Regions from separate parts of the Homo sapiens genome. Here region 1 is linked to region 2. A link means that fine-mapping ties the variant in region 2 to the expression of a gene that starts in the linked region. Tissue or cell type: testis. Region 2 holds a variant in brackets; the other region holds the start of a gene. All regions are shown on one strand. Distances are between the middles of the regions.

Evidence for each region. PIP is the estimated chance that this variant, and not a neighbour inherited with it, causes the effect.
Region 1: POLR3C starts here. The variant in region 2 is fine-mapped to the expression of POLR3C in testis (GTEx, PIP above 0.99).

Annotation. Positions count from the first base shown.
Region 1 is chr1:145,820,163-145,828,268 of GRCh38, forward strand. POLR3C (RNA polymerase III subunit C) reads left to right here and starts at 4,038. Exons shown (of 15, transcript NM_006468.8): 1 at 4,038-4,207; 2 at 5,595-5,761; 3 at 6,292-6,547; 4 at 6,658-6,843. The coding sequence starts at 5,615. It overlaps RNF115 (ring finger protein 115), which reads right to left and starts at 3,933. Exons shown (of 9, transcript NM_014455.4): 1 at 3,610-3,933. The coding sequence starts at 3,711. RefSeq lists an enhancer at 3,899-4,298.
Region 2 is chr1:146,623,069-146,631,174 of GRCh38, forward strand. It overlaps the pseudogene HYDIN2. Among named protein-coding and RNA genes, the nearest start is that of TRN-GTT24-1, 260 kb to the left of the region's middle. The variant C/T (reference allele first, on the strand shown) is at 3,214.

The DNA.
Region 1 (8,106 bases), 800 kb before region 2:
AAAACAAATACCACATATCAGGCCAGCCGCAATAGCTCATGCCTGTAACCCCAGCACTTTGGGAGGCTGAGGCAGGCAGATTGCTTAAGCCCAGAAATTTGAGACCAGCCGGGGCAACATGGCAAAATCCCATCTCTACAAAAAAGAAAAAAAAATTAGCCAGGCATGGTGGAACACACCTATCTACTACTACTCAGGAGGATATAGTGGGAGGACACATTGAGCCCACAAATTCAAGAACAGCCTGGGCAACAAGACAGAATAAATTCTGTCTCTATTTAAAAAGAAAAAAAGAGGCCGGGTGCAGTGGCTCACACCTGTAATCCCACCACTTTGGGAGGCCAAGGTGGGCATATCACAAGGTCGAGATGGAGACCATCCTGGCCAACATGGTGAAACCCCGTCTCTACTAAAAATACAAAAATTAGCTGGGCATGGTGGCACGTGCCTGTAGTCCCCACTACTTGGGAGGCCGAGGCAGGAGAACTGCTTGAACCCAGGAGGTGGAGGTTGTAGTGAACCGAGATCGCACCACTGCACTCCAGCCTGGTGACAGAGCGAGACTCAGTCTCAAAAAAAGAAAAAGGGAATATACTGTATATTTGAAAATTGCTAAGACAGATTTTAAGTGTTCTCACCACGCAAAAATAAGTATGTGAGGTAATGCATGTTAAATAGCTTGATTTAACCATTCAGTGTATACATATATCAAATCATGCTGAACACTATAAAAAATATAGTATACAACTTTTAGTTGTGAAAAAAACATGATTTATTAAATATTTCTCCCTTCTTCATCAACTCCCTCTTCCTTTTGCTACCTCACAGTCTTTGGAATTCTCAATCTGAAATGTACCCATCCCTCAAAACTCAATTTAAATCCCACTGGCCACACCAATGCTATGAAATTCCCCTCTCTGAATCCTAAAGCACATATCCTCATTCCCTTTATGCTGTTACTTTTTCTATGTTTGCCTTGTCTTTCCCCAAAAGCTGTAAGATCCTTAAGGGCAGGAGCCACATATCACTCCCTATCACCTCCAGGACACTCAGCAGAGAACCTTGGATATATTTAGGAAGAATCCGGTTATACTCAATTGTGTTAGGCCTCAATTTACAAATCAGATATGACAAATAATATATCACACCAAAAAGATCAAGAAACTTCTCCAGGCATTAACTAAGGCTTAGAAAAACACCTATTCAGCTTTTCAAATTATCCCTTTGAAGTAAGGACTTAAAGGTGAGAAGAAAAGATATAATCAATTGGGGAAGTTTAGACTGTCTTCTCACTCTTTTTTTTTTTTTTTTTTTTTTTTTGAGACAGGGTCTGGCTCTATTGCCCAGGCTGGAGTGCAATGGTGCGATCTCAGCTCACTGCAACCTCTGCTTCCTGGGGTCAGGCAATCCTCCTACCTCAGCCTCCTGAATAGCTGGGACTACAGGTGCATGCCACCACACACACGGCAAATTTTTTTATTTTTTGGTAGAGACGGGGTTTCTCCATGTTGCCCAGGCTAGTCTCGAACTCCTGAGCTCAAGCGATCTGCCTGCCTTGGACTCCCAAAGTATTGGGATTACAGGCCTGAGCCACCACGCCTGGCCAACTTCTCACTCTTAAAGGCAAAATAGTGAACAGCAACTTAAAGATCAAAAAAGCTAAGGATGGAATATTCAACAAGGCATCACATTCAACAACACACCACTGGTCACACACATACTGGCTGAATTCCAGACTCCCTCTCTATGGTAGAAGAGTTCTGCAGGCTCTGATGTTGGCTGGAAAAAAACTAGACACCTGCTCTTCCCAGCACTGAAATATGGCCAAAAAAAAAAACATAAACACACAGCAAAATCAGCAAACAAAGCTAAGTAGCATTTAGGCGGGGAGCAGTGGCTCACGCCTGTAATCCCAGCACTCTGGGAGCCCGAGTCGGGTGGATCACTTGAGGTCAAGAGTTCGAGACCAGCCTGGCCAACATGGTGAAACTGCATCTCTACTAAAAACACAAAAATTAGCCAGGGTGCGGTGGTCGTGCACCTATAGTCCCAGCTACCCGGAGGCCGAGGCAGGAGACTCTCTTGAACCCGGCAGGTGGAGGTTGCAGTCAGCCGAAATCATGCTCCTGGGTGATAGACAGAGGCTGTCTCAAAAAAAAAAAAAGAAAAAAGAAAAACAGCTAAGTAGCATTTAGATGAAACTATGACTCTGAAGTAGGGGGTGCGGCAAGTAGAGAGGAAAGAATGTATCATAATGCCTTAAACAAAACTTTTGAGTGAGAGAAGACTATAAAACACCCTTTAAGCACTTATTCACTGGACTCCATTTGTGTTTCTAAGAAATAAGATATACAGACTCACTTCAGAAGGTTTTCTCCTACACTGTATCTGAGACACCATAAATAGAAACATACATTATGTTGCCACTCTATCACAAGACTGAACCTGGACACTTGTAAGGAAAGGAACAACCATAAAGACAGTTGGCCAAGGACAGGATTGACATTCACTCTGGGGGAGCTCCTCGTAGTAGCTACAACCCAACCCAAAACAGTTTCTGGGTTTGTGATGCTGGTGCTGGCTAGTATGCTGCATAAATGTTGTTTGTTTTTGTAGAGAGGGGTCTCACTCTGTTGCCCAGGCTGGTCTCAAACTCCTGGCCTCAAGCAATCCTCCTGCCTCGTCCTCCCAAAGCACTGGGATTACAGACCTAAGCCACCGCGCCTGACCTACAAAAGTGTTTTCTTCCCAACCACAGCACTGCCTCTCAAGGGGCTAACACTCTGGCAGAAACTCGTGAAAACCAATTTCACGTCAGAGGAAGCATCCCCAACATTCTGTCCCGGCTCTTTTTCTTAGGTGAAGAAAGGGACAGGGCGGGGGGCGGAACAATGATATTAAAGACACTGGCAGCATGACAACCAAAATAAACGAAGTTGAAACAGTACGTCCTGCCTTCTTCCTAAAGCCATTTCCTTCAACAGTGATAGGAGTGCAGACCGTCTGCAAGTCATTAGTACGCTGCTGTCTTCACTGTCACAAGGACCCTGGAAACCACTGAAGAGCAAAATCCCCCTTTTCGCCCCACAGATACCTTCCAACCCCCTTTCTGTGCTTCCTTCCCTAGAAAAAACCGAAGAGTGACAATCCTCAGCAATCCGCTATTTCGCTTCACTGACAAGGGAGGTGGCGGGGGCGGTGGGGGGTGAAAAGTGGAAAAGAACACAGAGGAAGGTGAGAAGACACAGTGGAAGAAGTGTGGGGGGAGGTCATCGTAGGAAAAAGACCAGGTATAAAAGAATGCAAGAAAATTGAGGGGAGAGTTATCAGAGGGAAACTTGCTAAGAAAAAAAAAAATTAAGGACACGGGAGGTAAAGAGGTGAGGTCAGGTGGAGCAGCCCAGGATGAATTAAGAGGTGGGCAGGAGGTACGGGGCCGAGGCCGTGATGCCCAGGGTTTAGGGCCGGCGGCTTAGAAGTGGGCAGCAGGTATTCGGCAGACCGATGTCGGGCGAGTCAATGATGTGCAGAAAGCTCCAGACCCAGTTCCGGGAAATCGGGGCCAGGAATCTATGAGGTTCCCAAGTATAGAGAACACAGCGCTCTTACCGGTAGTTTGGGGCTGACCTCGCCCTTGCAAAAGTGGCAGAAAAACCGGTGGGCGGCTACAGCGGCGCCCGAGTCCGCCCCGGCCGCCGAAGCCTCCGCCATTTTTGCCCTCCGCCGCGGCCGTCCGAGAGGGCAGCCGGCCCGTCCCTCGCCAGGCCGCTACCTCCCGAGCTGCAGTCGTCGCCGCCGCCGCCGCCTCGGTGCGGCCCACCGCTTCAGAGCCCGCGTCGGTCACGTGAGTTGGCCAGGCCCAGAAACGCGGCGGCGCCAACAGCTACCCTGCGGCCCGCCTCCCAGCACCAAAGAGGCGCAGGAAGGAGAGACAAACGGCCCGCCCGCCGGCTCCACAAACAGCCCCTCGCTGGTCCTCCAGTCTTCCAGCGAGAAGAAAGAAAGAGCGTCCCCGGAAGCCGCCGAAACTCTGGGGTAGAGTGGCACGCGCTTTTTGCTTTTCCGCGTCTTCTTCGGTGGCGATCCGCGTCCTAGAAAGGGCGGTGGGCTCCACCTCGGCCTAGAAGGCCAGCGGGAGCCGTAGGAAGCCGTCGCGGGAAGCTCAGCCGAATTGGAGTTGGAGCCCCCGGATTGCGCTGACCCTGAGGTTAGTGGAAAATGCTGTCTGAACGTGGCGGCACTGACTGGACCAAGAGACCACGTCCGAAACGGGAACCTGTGTAAAGGAAGTGTAGAGCTAGGAGCCAAGCGCCTTGGAAGCCCTTTCCGAGGATGGCAAAGGATCTGGGAATGCTTCTCCAAAGATATGTGGATGGACGAAATAGGTCTCTGGTGATACTGAGGCGGGGTGGGGACGGGGAGGCAAAGACTTGGCTTCTTAGGAATTGGAAGAAATAAGTAAACAATGTTTGGTAGCAATTTGTAATAAGGAAGTAATCATAAAATTAACTACGTCCGTTTCTGATTGTGTCAACTTTGTCAAGGAGTAGAAGTTTAAGAATTGAATACTGTCCTGCAAACAACGTAACCTCATCTCCTGTTTGACACACCCTGTTGAGAAGCAGTCCTTTACCTCCTAAATTTCTTTTTCGAAATTATCATTTCCTTTATGGACTGAGAATAACACTGCCTGTTCACTCCCACCGAGCTGTGAACAGTGACCTTAATTCTTCCAAGCAGTGAAGTGTAGAAACTAAGGTCTGTGACAGACCGCAAAATCATCTCCCAATCTTTAAGGAAAATCAGAATCACGCATAATCCCATAGAGATAAATTTGATGCATAGTCTTTTCCTATGCATACATTTTTCCTTTTTTTTTACAATAATTGAATTTTTATATTTTTTCAGCTTGCTTCTGTCACTTAATATATTATGAGTAATTTTTTTTGTTTTTTTTTGTTTTGGAGACAGAATCTCGCACTGTCGCCCGGGTTGGAGTGCAGTGGCGCGATCTCGGCTCACTGCAACCTCTGCCTCCCGGCTTCAAGCGATTCTCCTGTCTCAGCCTCCCTAGTAGCTGGGATTACAGGCACCCGCCACCACGCCCAGCTAATTTTTTTGTGTGTTTTTAGTAGAGAAGGGGTTTCACTATATTGGCCAGGCTGGTCTCAAACTCCTGACCTCATGATACGCCCACCTCGGTCTCCCAAAGTGCTAGGATTACAGGCCTGAGCCACCGCGCCAGCCTATTATGAATAATTTTCTACATGAATACGCATCGTACTAAATAACTTTAAATGTTGGTGTAGTATGCCATTGTATGGGTATGGCATCATTTATTGTTAGACGTTAGATTGTTTCCACTAAGTCGGTATTATAAAGAGAACTAATGACTTCATTATTATTAGCTTTTTCTTTCTTTGGACACAATATCCAAAAAGAAATTGTTGTTTCAAAGATATGCAAGATTTTTAAGGCTTTTTGATATGTATTGTCAAATTGCCCTCCAGAAAGAATACATGAATTTACACTCAGCAGCTCTGCTTCCAGCGTGAAAGACTTTCTATTGTACCATTTTGGTGTTTTTTCCCTAGCTCTCAGACTCCCCAGTACAATGACTCAAGCAGAAATTAAGCTCTGTTCTTTGTTGCTGCAAGAGCATTTTGGAGAGATTGTAGAAAAAATTGGAGTCCATCTGATAAGAACCGGCAGCCAGCCACTAAGAGTAATTGCCCATGACACAGGAACATCACTGGATCAGGTATGTCTAAATGACATTCATTTTCTCTCATTTCTTTCACTAATTTATTTCACCCACCTTTGAATATTGTTCTTCTCACCCCAGAAAAGGAAAAATGAAGAAAGCCTGCCCTTGGAGCAGAACAATGTTATTTCGGGGAGAAAAGGATGAGACTTAGACATCAACATTTTGTTTCTCAAAGTGTTCCTAGTTCATCACAGCTTTTAGGCAAATCTTTGCTCTTCCCATGCCGTACCTCATTTATTCACAATAAGTCTATTAATCTCAGTACTGCCTTTAAGGAATGAGAATGATGAAAGTAAATTGTGTTTTGAGAGATAAGGATCAGAGGAAATATAGCAAGGAATCTTCCTGATTTATTGTATTGATGTGTGATTCTTATTAGCTCCTCCAGTGGAGAGAGGAAATAAGTGCAGAAATTATCTAGCCATTTTCTGATGCTTACTAAGCTGTTGGACAAAAAATTGCCAGCAGTAATGAGCTATATCTTCAGGTCTTTCCTCTCTTTCTTCTCTTTATGTTCCATTTAGGTGAAGAAAGCCCTGTGTGTCCTCGTCCAACATAACCTGGTGAGTTATCAAGTGCACAAACGTGGTGTGGTGGAGTATGAAGCCCAGTGCAGCCGGGTATTGCGAATGCTTAGATATCCCCGGTACATCTATACTACCAAAACTCTGTACAGTGACACTGGAGAGCTGATTGTTGAGGAGCTTCTGTTGAACGGCAAACTGACAATGTCAGCTGTTGTGAAGAAAGTGGCAGACCGGCTCACAGAGACCATGGAGGGTCAGTATGGTATCCATAGCTGTTAACAAAAGCATAGATCAGCTGGCTATGGGAGTGAACCCTGAGCTATCTTAGGCCATCTCATCTGCCTTTTTCCTCCTGTTATACAGATGGCAAGACCATGGACTATGCTGAAGTATCAAACACATTTGTGCGACTGGCAGACACACACTTTGTACAACGCTGCCCTTCGGTACCTACCACTGAGAATTCAGACCCTGGGCCACCACCACCTGCCCCCACACTTGTCATTAATGAAAAGGACATGTACCTGGTTCCTAAACTCAGCTTGATAGGTAAGGAATTTTAACCCCTGGAACTGTGACTTGCCTTAATTGTGGATTCTTCTTGATTGTCAAGTGTATGAAATGTGATTGTATTTACCAAGTATTTGCTATGTGCCAGACATCGTGGTGTATAACAATGAAAAAATCATGGTCTCTGCCATGGGGCTTTAGTATAGGAGACATACATTAATCGGAAAATCACATCGATATATCATTAAACGGTGATAAGTACTATGAAGGAAATATTCCTATGAAGGAACTGTCATAGTATTATGAGACATGCATTAATCAGAAAATCACATCAGTATATAATTAAACTGTAATAAGTGCCATGAAGGAAAAGTATGAGGTGTTATGAAAATATATAATGGAGACTTTGGGAGACTGAGGCAGGCGAATTGCATGAGGCCAGGAGTTCGAGACCAGCCTGGGCAACATGTTGAAACCCCATCTCTACTAAAATTATAAAAATTAGCCAGGTAGCCGGGCATGGTGGTTCACGCCTGTAATCCCAGCACTTTGGGAGGCCAAGGTGGGCGGATCACGAGGTCAGGAGATCGAGACCATCCTGGCTAATACCGGGAAACCCCGTCTATACTAAAAATACAAAAAATTAGCTGGGTGTGGTGGCGGGCATCTGTAGTCCCAGCTACTTGGGAGGCTGAGGCAGGAAAATAGCATGAACCCGGGAAGCGGAGGTTGCAGTGAGCCGAGATCGTGCCACTGCACTCCAGCCTGGGCAACAGAGCCAGACTCCGTCTCAAAAAAAAAAAAAAAAAAAAATAGCCAGGTATGGTGGCATACGCCTGTAATCCCAGCTACTCGGGAGGCTGGGGCAGGAGAATTGCTTGAACCCAGGAGACAGCGATTGCAGTGAGCCAAGATTGCACCACTGTACTCCAGCCTGGGTGACAGAGTGAGACTCTGTCTCGGGAAAAAAAAAAGAAAAGAAAATATATAACGAGAGACGGGATTCATCTGGGAGTTTAGGCCTCATGTTTCTTTGAGAAGGTGGCATTTGAGCTAAGATTTGAAGTAGAAGCTAACAGTGAGGTAACAGGAAAAGCATTTTTGGCAGAGGGAATAGTATGTAGTAAAAAAATAGCATTTGAGGAAATGAAAGAATGTCAGTATAGCTAAAGCATTGTAAGCAAAGCAAGAGAGGCATGAGGTAAGGTTAGAGACATAGCTAGGCAGGGGTCTGATCTCAGAAGCTAATCAGGATCAACCTGCTTAGTACTTGGATGGGAGACAGGCAGGGGCTGAATCAAG
Region 2 (8,106 bases):
TTACTTACATGATCTCACTATTATGTCTCCAAGCATTGTAAACACATTGCTCTGACTCTGTTTGGATTCCCACAGCAGCAGGTTGTTAATTACCATGGCAGTTTCTCTTATTCTGGTAACTGCTAGCAAGACCTCCCTCCATCTACAAGCTGAGGTCTCCCTTGGGGCAAGCCCTGGGGATAACATAGAAAAGAGATAGAGACATATGACCTGAAGGATCCAAGGAAAATGTACTGATCTCATGATATATACTATACATTCAGAATCTCAAGATTAGCTGAAAGGTGATTACTATTTATTCTCAACTCTTCCACCTCAGTGTCCCTGTTATGCACTGAATTGTTTCCCGCAGAATTTATATGTTGAAGTCCTAACACCCAGTACCTCGGAATGTAACTCTTCTTGGACATAGGGCCTTTAAAGAGGTAATTAAGGCAAAATGAGGTCAGATGGGTGGGCTTTAATCCAATATGATTGGTGTCCTTATAAGGAGAGGACATTAGGACACAGACATACACATAGAAAAGGGCCATGTGAAAAAATAAAGAGAAGCTGAAGCGAGAGACCCTCAGAAAAAAATAACCCTGCAATCACCAACCCGTCTGACAGCAACAGAAATAAACTTATGTTGTTTAAGCCACCCAGTCTAGGGTACTTTGTTATGGCAGCCCTAGCAAAGTCATACAACCCCCAACAACTAAGGAGAGTGAACGTGTGTGCCTCAAGGGTTCTGTGGCATGACCAAAGCAACCTGTCACAATCATAATCTTTTTTATTTTTAAGTCTCAAGACTTATCTGAAACATTCACAAGACATTTACGTTCTCTTCCATAATACATGTGTGTTTGTTATAAGAGAAAAATGAGGGTTGTTTTCCAAATATTTGAATAACATTGACTCTTCACGAATATGTGCCGTGCTTATCCCAGCCCATGGTTAACATCCTTTGGGTATGTATACAACATGAGAAGGGTGGGAATACACTTTCATTTATATGAACTTCAGCCCACTTCCTACCTTCATAACATCTCATCTCTCATGACAAGCAGTGAAGGGTGGTTCTCTGAAGAAGTAGGAAGAACAAACTTGTGAATATAACCTTGTCTCCAATTCACGGATCCTCTAGTCCCATGAGGGCCTTTGATATGATCCAGCAGATCAACTCTTGGAAGCTGACTACTGGGCATCAGGAAGTATTGCTCTGAGTCATAAGCACCCTTGACAACATCCAGTATCATAAGCAAGCCTTCATACATAAGCAGCAAAGATAAAACCTTTAAGCTCTGCTCTAAAAACATTTAAGATAGAAGGAATAATGGCCCTATCTGTAGGAAGGAAAGTATAGGATATTAAAGGAGCAGTTTTACTTTTCAGGTAGATGAAAGAAAGGGAAAGTGCTAGCCAAGGAAGGCTAACTGCCCCTCAAGTTTAATAAGAAAGCCCATCCCAATTTCACCTGGCCATTCCCCATTTTAAGTTCAGGCCTAATAATACTGTGTCTTACCATCAACATACATAGCTACCCCTTTTAGGAATAAATATGTATTTTGGATATTTGTTAAATAAACTCTTATTGAGTACCTCCTTCAAGCAAGGTTGTATATTAGGTGCAAGAACTCATGTATTTGGGTTTGTTAGACATTCCTGATGCATGAATACTACTGCCCTCATTTTTGACTCTGAATTATTTACCCAAATTCAGGATTGCCCATTCTTTAAACTATTCCCTAAAGAAACTTAAAAATACAGTAAAAGAAATAACAAAGGAATTCAAAAGGGTAGAAAATATCCATTTAACACAAAGAAAGGCAGTAATGGAGGAATAGAGGAACAGAAAAGATATGAGACATATAGAAAATAAGTAGCATGAGTCCTGCCCTATCAACAATTACATTAAATGTCAATGTATTAAATACTTCAATTAAAAGTTAGAGAATGGCAGAATGGATTAGAACAAAACAAACAACCCCGCCAAAAATCTATATCTTTTTGCTTTTTACAAGATATCTATCTTGTATCTATATGCTTTTTACAAGATACCACACTTTAGATTTAAAGATATGAATAGGTTGAAACCAAAAGGATGGAAATATATACACCATGCAAGCAGTACCAAAAGAAAGCTGGAGAGTCTATGTTATATCAGACAAAATAGACTTTAAAATAAAAATTGTTACTCAAGACAAAGAAGGGCATTTTACAATGATAAGATAGTGAGTTCATCAAAAAGATATGGCAATTATAAACACACATCTAATAACAGAGCACCAAAATCTGTGAAGTGCAGAAAGATAGAATTGAAGGGAGAAATAGACAATTCAGCAAAATAGTAAGGGATGTCAATACCCCACTTTCAATAATAAAAAACTAAGCAGAAGATCACAAAGGAAATAGAAGAGTTGAACACTATAAACCACCTAGACCTAACAGACATCTACAGCACACTCTACCCAACAGGAATAAAAGAAAGGACATTACTACCAACCTTACAGAAATTAAAAGGATTAGTGGATAATGCTATGAACAATTGTATGCCAAAAATTAGATAATGTAGATGATATGAACAAATTCCTAGAAAGACACGAACTACCAAAACTGACTCAAGAAGAAATAGAAAATCTGAATAGACCTGTAATATATTCCAACCAAAAAACAAACAAACAAAAAACAAGATCAAGTGGCTTCACTGGTAAATTCTACTGAATGTTTAATGAAGAATTGTCATAAATCTTTCACAAACTCTTCCAAAAAATAAGAAGGTGGGAACACTTTTCAACTCATTTTATGAGGCCAGTATTACCCTGATACCAAAACCAAATGAAAACATTACAAGAAAAGAAAGCTAAAAACCCATAACCTTTATGGATTTAGACCCAAAAATCTTTGACAAAATACTAGCAAACCAAATCCAGCAACATGTGGAAAGGATTATACCCCATGACGAAGTGGGATTTATCCTGAATGATGAAAGGTTGGCTTAACATAAGAAAATCAATCAATGTAATACAACATATTAATAGAATAAAGGACAAAAACCACATGATTATTTCAGTAAACACAGAAAAAGCATTTGCCAAAATTTAGCACCCTTTTATGATTAAAAAAAAAAAGTAACAAACTAGGAGTAGAAGGGAACTGCCTCTACATGGATCAAAGACTGAAATGTAAGGGCTGAAACTATAAAACTGTTAGAAGACAACATATGGATAGGCC[C/T]GGTGTGGTGGCTCATGCCTGTAATCTCAGCACTTTGGGAGGCTGAGGCAGGCAGATTACCTGAGGCCAGGAGTTCGAGACCAGCCTGGCCAACATGGTGAAACCCTGTCTCTACTAAAAATACAAAAAAATTAACTGGGCATGGTGATGCATGCCTGTAATTCCAGCTACTTGAGAGGCTGAGGCAGGAGAATCACTTGAACCCAGGAGGTGGAGATTGCAGTGAGCGGAGATTGTGCCACTGCACTGCAGCCTGGGTGACAGAGTGAGACTCTGTCTCAAAAACAAACAAACAAAAAAAATAGGGTTAAATATCCATATCCAAAAACCAAATAAGCAATAGTTTTCAGATAATCAGCATCTAAGCACAAGCAACCAAAGAAAAAATAAATAAATTAGACTTCATCAGAATGTAAAAAAGTTTGTGCTTGAAAGGGGATACTGTCAAGAAAGTGAAAAGACAACCTTCACAATGGGAGAAAGTATGTGCAACTCATATATCTGATAAGGGACAATAAATTATTGGACAATTATAACTCAATAAATAATTCAATTTAAAAATGGACAAAGCGTTTAAGCAGACATTTCTCAAAGAAGATATACAAGAGGCCAATAACACATGAAAAGACTGTCAATATCATTAATCCTCAGGGAGATGTAAATCAAAACCCCACAATGAGATACTACTTCACACTCACTTGGATGGCTATAATCTTAAAATGGAAAATACAGTAGTTTCCCTTTATCTGCATTTTTAGGCCCCAAAGCGCAAAAGTAAAATTAGGGTTACTCAGACACAAGCACTGCAATACTGTGGCAGTTGATCTGATAACCAAGACAGCTACTAAGTGACTAAAGAGCGGGTAGCATATGCAGCATCGATACACTGGACAAAAGGGTGACTCATGACCTCGGCTGGACAGAGAGTGGATGACACAAGACTTCATCACACTACGCAAAGTGCACTTAACAATTTCTGACTGATTTGTTTCTGGAAATTTTTTATTTAATATTTTTGGACCGTGTTGACCATAAGTAACTGAAACAACAGAAAATCAAAACTACAGATAAGGAACTACTGTAAGTATTGGTGAAAAGGTGGAGGAATGAGAACTCCCATACACTGGTAATTAGGAATGTAAGACATGGCAGCCACTTTAGAAAATGATTTATCAGCACCTCAAACATGTAAACACTGAGTTACCATATGACCAGCAATTCCACTCCTAGGTATATACCCAAGAGGAATGAAAGCATATATCCACACAAAAACTTGTACATGAATGTTTATAACAGTATCATTCATAGTAGCCAAAGATAAATGAAATGTGTTATATCTATACAATGGAATACTATTTGACCATAAAAAGGAATGAAAAAAAATGAAGCACTGATAGATGCTACAACATGGTAGCATGAATGAACCTTGCTACCACGGTCTTTTGTGACTAGCTTCTTTCACTTGTCATAATGATTTCAAGGTTCAGCCATAATGACACCATTATAAACCTTGAAAATAAGGTTCATCCATTATGAACCTTGAAAACATTATGAAAGAACCCGGTCACGAAAGACCACATTACATGATTCCATTTATATGAAATGGTTAAAGTAGGCAAATCTATATAGATCTGAGGTAGATTAGTGGTTGCTTAGGGCTGGAGGGTGCAGGATAGTGGGTGACAGCTAAAGGGCATGAGGTTTCTTTTTGAGGTGATAAAAACGTTCTCAAATTGACTGTAGTGATGGTTGCATATATTTGTGAATATACAAAAAACATTGATTTGTACACTTTAAATGTGTGAATTGTATGATGTGTGAATTATATCTCAATGAAGCTGTCATTTAAAAAAAAATTCCAGGAGGCTGTAATAGTGAATAATACTTCTGTAATTTCCTGGGTGAATTTTTTAAATCTCTGATCTGTTCTCCTAAAGATCCCAGAGTAGTCATGCATGTCACTTGCAATGTCTAAATAGGTTAAGGTGTACTTGGGTTTTCCATTGGGAATAATAGGATTTAGGGATCTCCCAGGAATCTGCTCACAAGTGAACTTGGACTAGTTAGTACTCCACCTGCTCTGTGCAGGGTAAGCCTCTTGTTCTATCTTCTGGACATTTCCATTTACCAAAATTCACATGCCACTTCTTGATTTTGGATGTTCATTTCTAGTTTCCTTCAACAAACCTGACTATGGAAAGAATCTTTATGGGGATTTATCACCAAACTCATGATCAATTGCTAAGAGAAATAGACTTACATAAATTTCCTCCTCAGTTCACTTCCTTTAAAGCTCAGTGTTTCATTTGTCCAATAGTGTTGAATTGTTAGTGGTTTGTAGCATTTCAAACCACTAACAATAATTTTGAAAACCTGTTAAAAATCTAGTGTCATGAATAAATGTCTACTCATAAAGGGCAAAAATGCATGTATAATACATCATCTGTTCTCAGCTCCACACATTAACACTGACTTGACTTGTTATTTTACTTTGTCAGAAATACTTTCTTGGGCCTCATAGCCCAGGAAATGTCTATAAAGTTAATATCGTAGGTTCTGGAATTTTGTTTCTTACTTTTTTATTGCCAGGTACTCATTTCTCAGTACTGCATAAGCTAGTATTTTAGCTAATGTGCCTTGAAAGATCATAACAAATATTATACTTTCACTCTTTCTGTTTACTCTTCCAGTTATATAACACAATATTTTCAGTGGTTGGATAAACAACACTAAAATTAGTGTGATTTTTTAAATTACCCACAAGCAATTTTCTTCCCTCCTATTTTTATGTATGTGATTTTATAAAGTTTGAACCATAGCACAGATACATTTTGTATTCAACTTGTCTCACTTACGTATTGTAATAATTGAATCATTCTCTCTCTTGTCTTTCAAATTATAGTTTTAACAGACCCCTGCACTGATTTATGACACAGCCTTGGCATAGATTGTCCTAACATTCTGAATCCCTGTGAGAATTAATGTGACCATATCTAAGTCCAGATGGGATGGTTCAGCCACAATTCCCTCAGTTACATGTGCCTTTGAACAAGTGTCATGTATCTCTGGTTGTTTAAACTTCTGCATTGATTAAATGTCTGCTTTGTGTAAATTTTTTAAACTTCTTTCCTACTTTCTTTAGCATCTTGCGCATGTCAGACACTTTTGATCTATTTGTTACTTTGGTCCCTAAAAGCTTTTTTTCAAGTGAAGCATATAGCCTGTCGGCCTGTTTGTTGACTTCATTCTCAACTGGATCCCAATTCCTGGCTGAGTCCCAACCACTCCCTTTAAAATCACTTCAGATCGTTAGCATGAGATATAATAAATGCTCATGAGAAAGTTAGACCTGAAACTTGTTGCAGTGAGTCTTTGCTGTGGCCATTCCTCCCAGGCTTACAACAACCTCTCATCACATTATAGTCAGAGCTGAAGCAACCGGAAGTATCACTAAGGTACCAATCCATGTCTTTACATGGATCATGGAGAAAAATATTATTGCTCTGAAGGTAAACAAGATAACCGAATAGTTTTCTTTTGCTGTTGTAACAAATTATCACAAATTTAGTAGCTTCAAACAACACATACTTAATATTTTACAGTTTTATAGACTTAATGCAGGTCTAGCTAGGCTAAAATCAGTGTTGGCAGGGCTGTGTTTCCTTCTGAAGGCTCTAGAGGGGAACCCATTTCCTAACCTTTTTTGGCTTTCTGAGGCTGCTCACATTCCTGGATTCCTTCTTCTGTGTTCAAAGTTTCCTTCTTCTGTGTTCAAAGCCAGGTTGAGTTCTCAGATTGCAGCACTCTGACCTCCTCTTCTGTCTCTTTCCTCTATTTTTAAAATCACCCTTGTGATTACAGTGGGCCTACTAGGATAAGACAGGATAATCTCCTCATCTTAAATTCAGTTAATTAGCAACCCTAATTCCATCTGCTACCTTAATTCCTCTTTGCCATGTAACCTAATATATTCATAGGTTCTGGGAATTAGGACATAGATATCTCTGGGAGCCATTATTCTACCTACAATACCTTCTAAGCTAGAAGTCATAGAATCTCTCTATTATTTATTTTAAGCTACAGCATCTCTCCAAGATCATAAAGCCTTACACTGAGAGAGAAATAGACCAACATTTAGAGTAAAGAGTCATTCAGTGTCACCTAGTCCAGTCCTCTCTTTTATACACGAGGAAGAGAAACAGAAGCTGATAGAGATAAAGTGGCTGGCCAACATCACAGTGAGTGAATGTCACAGTGGTAGGAATGTCACAGTGGTAAGAGTGGAATTGGAACAGTTTATATGAAAGCATGGACAGGGATTACTAGTATCAATGATAGTCTTTGATGTGTATTACATGATTAGACCTATAATTTTTATTTCTTGACACATTAATAACTTTACATGATATGTGTCTCATTCAAAATAACAACATTTTGTGCCCTTGTTTGGTGATCCATCTGCTCTGCCTCTCACCTATTCATTGGTAGAAATAAGATAATAAGTTAACCACAGCATTGTTTGTCAAAACCCATGGTTTGAATCATGAAAAAGAATTTTAAGAACCACTGTGATAGACCATCATGTCATCATTTCTTTAAATCCTGGATACTATAATTGACATAAAGTCAAGGTATGGTTTTTGTACTTATCCTTGCCCTACTTCCTGATTGTGACTCTGATTCACTGGATTCTCTCCCTCTCCCCCACCTTGTATTCCTCCTTCCAGAGGCTGTGTCATTGGACCTACCTTCCATTTTAATGTTCCAGCTCTGCACTTTGGTGATGTTTCCTTTGGTGAGTAATTTTCCATTTTAAATTAGAAATTGAATAGGATTCCTTTTCTCTACGTGGAAGGAGGAAGGTTTACAAAGAACCCCCGTTCCACAGCACTG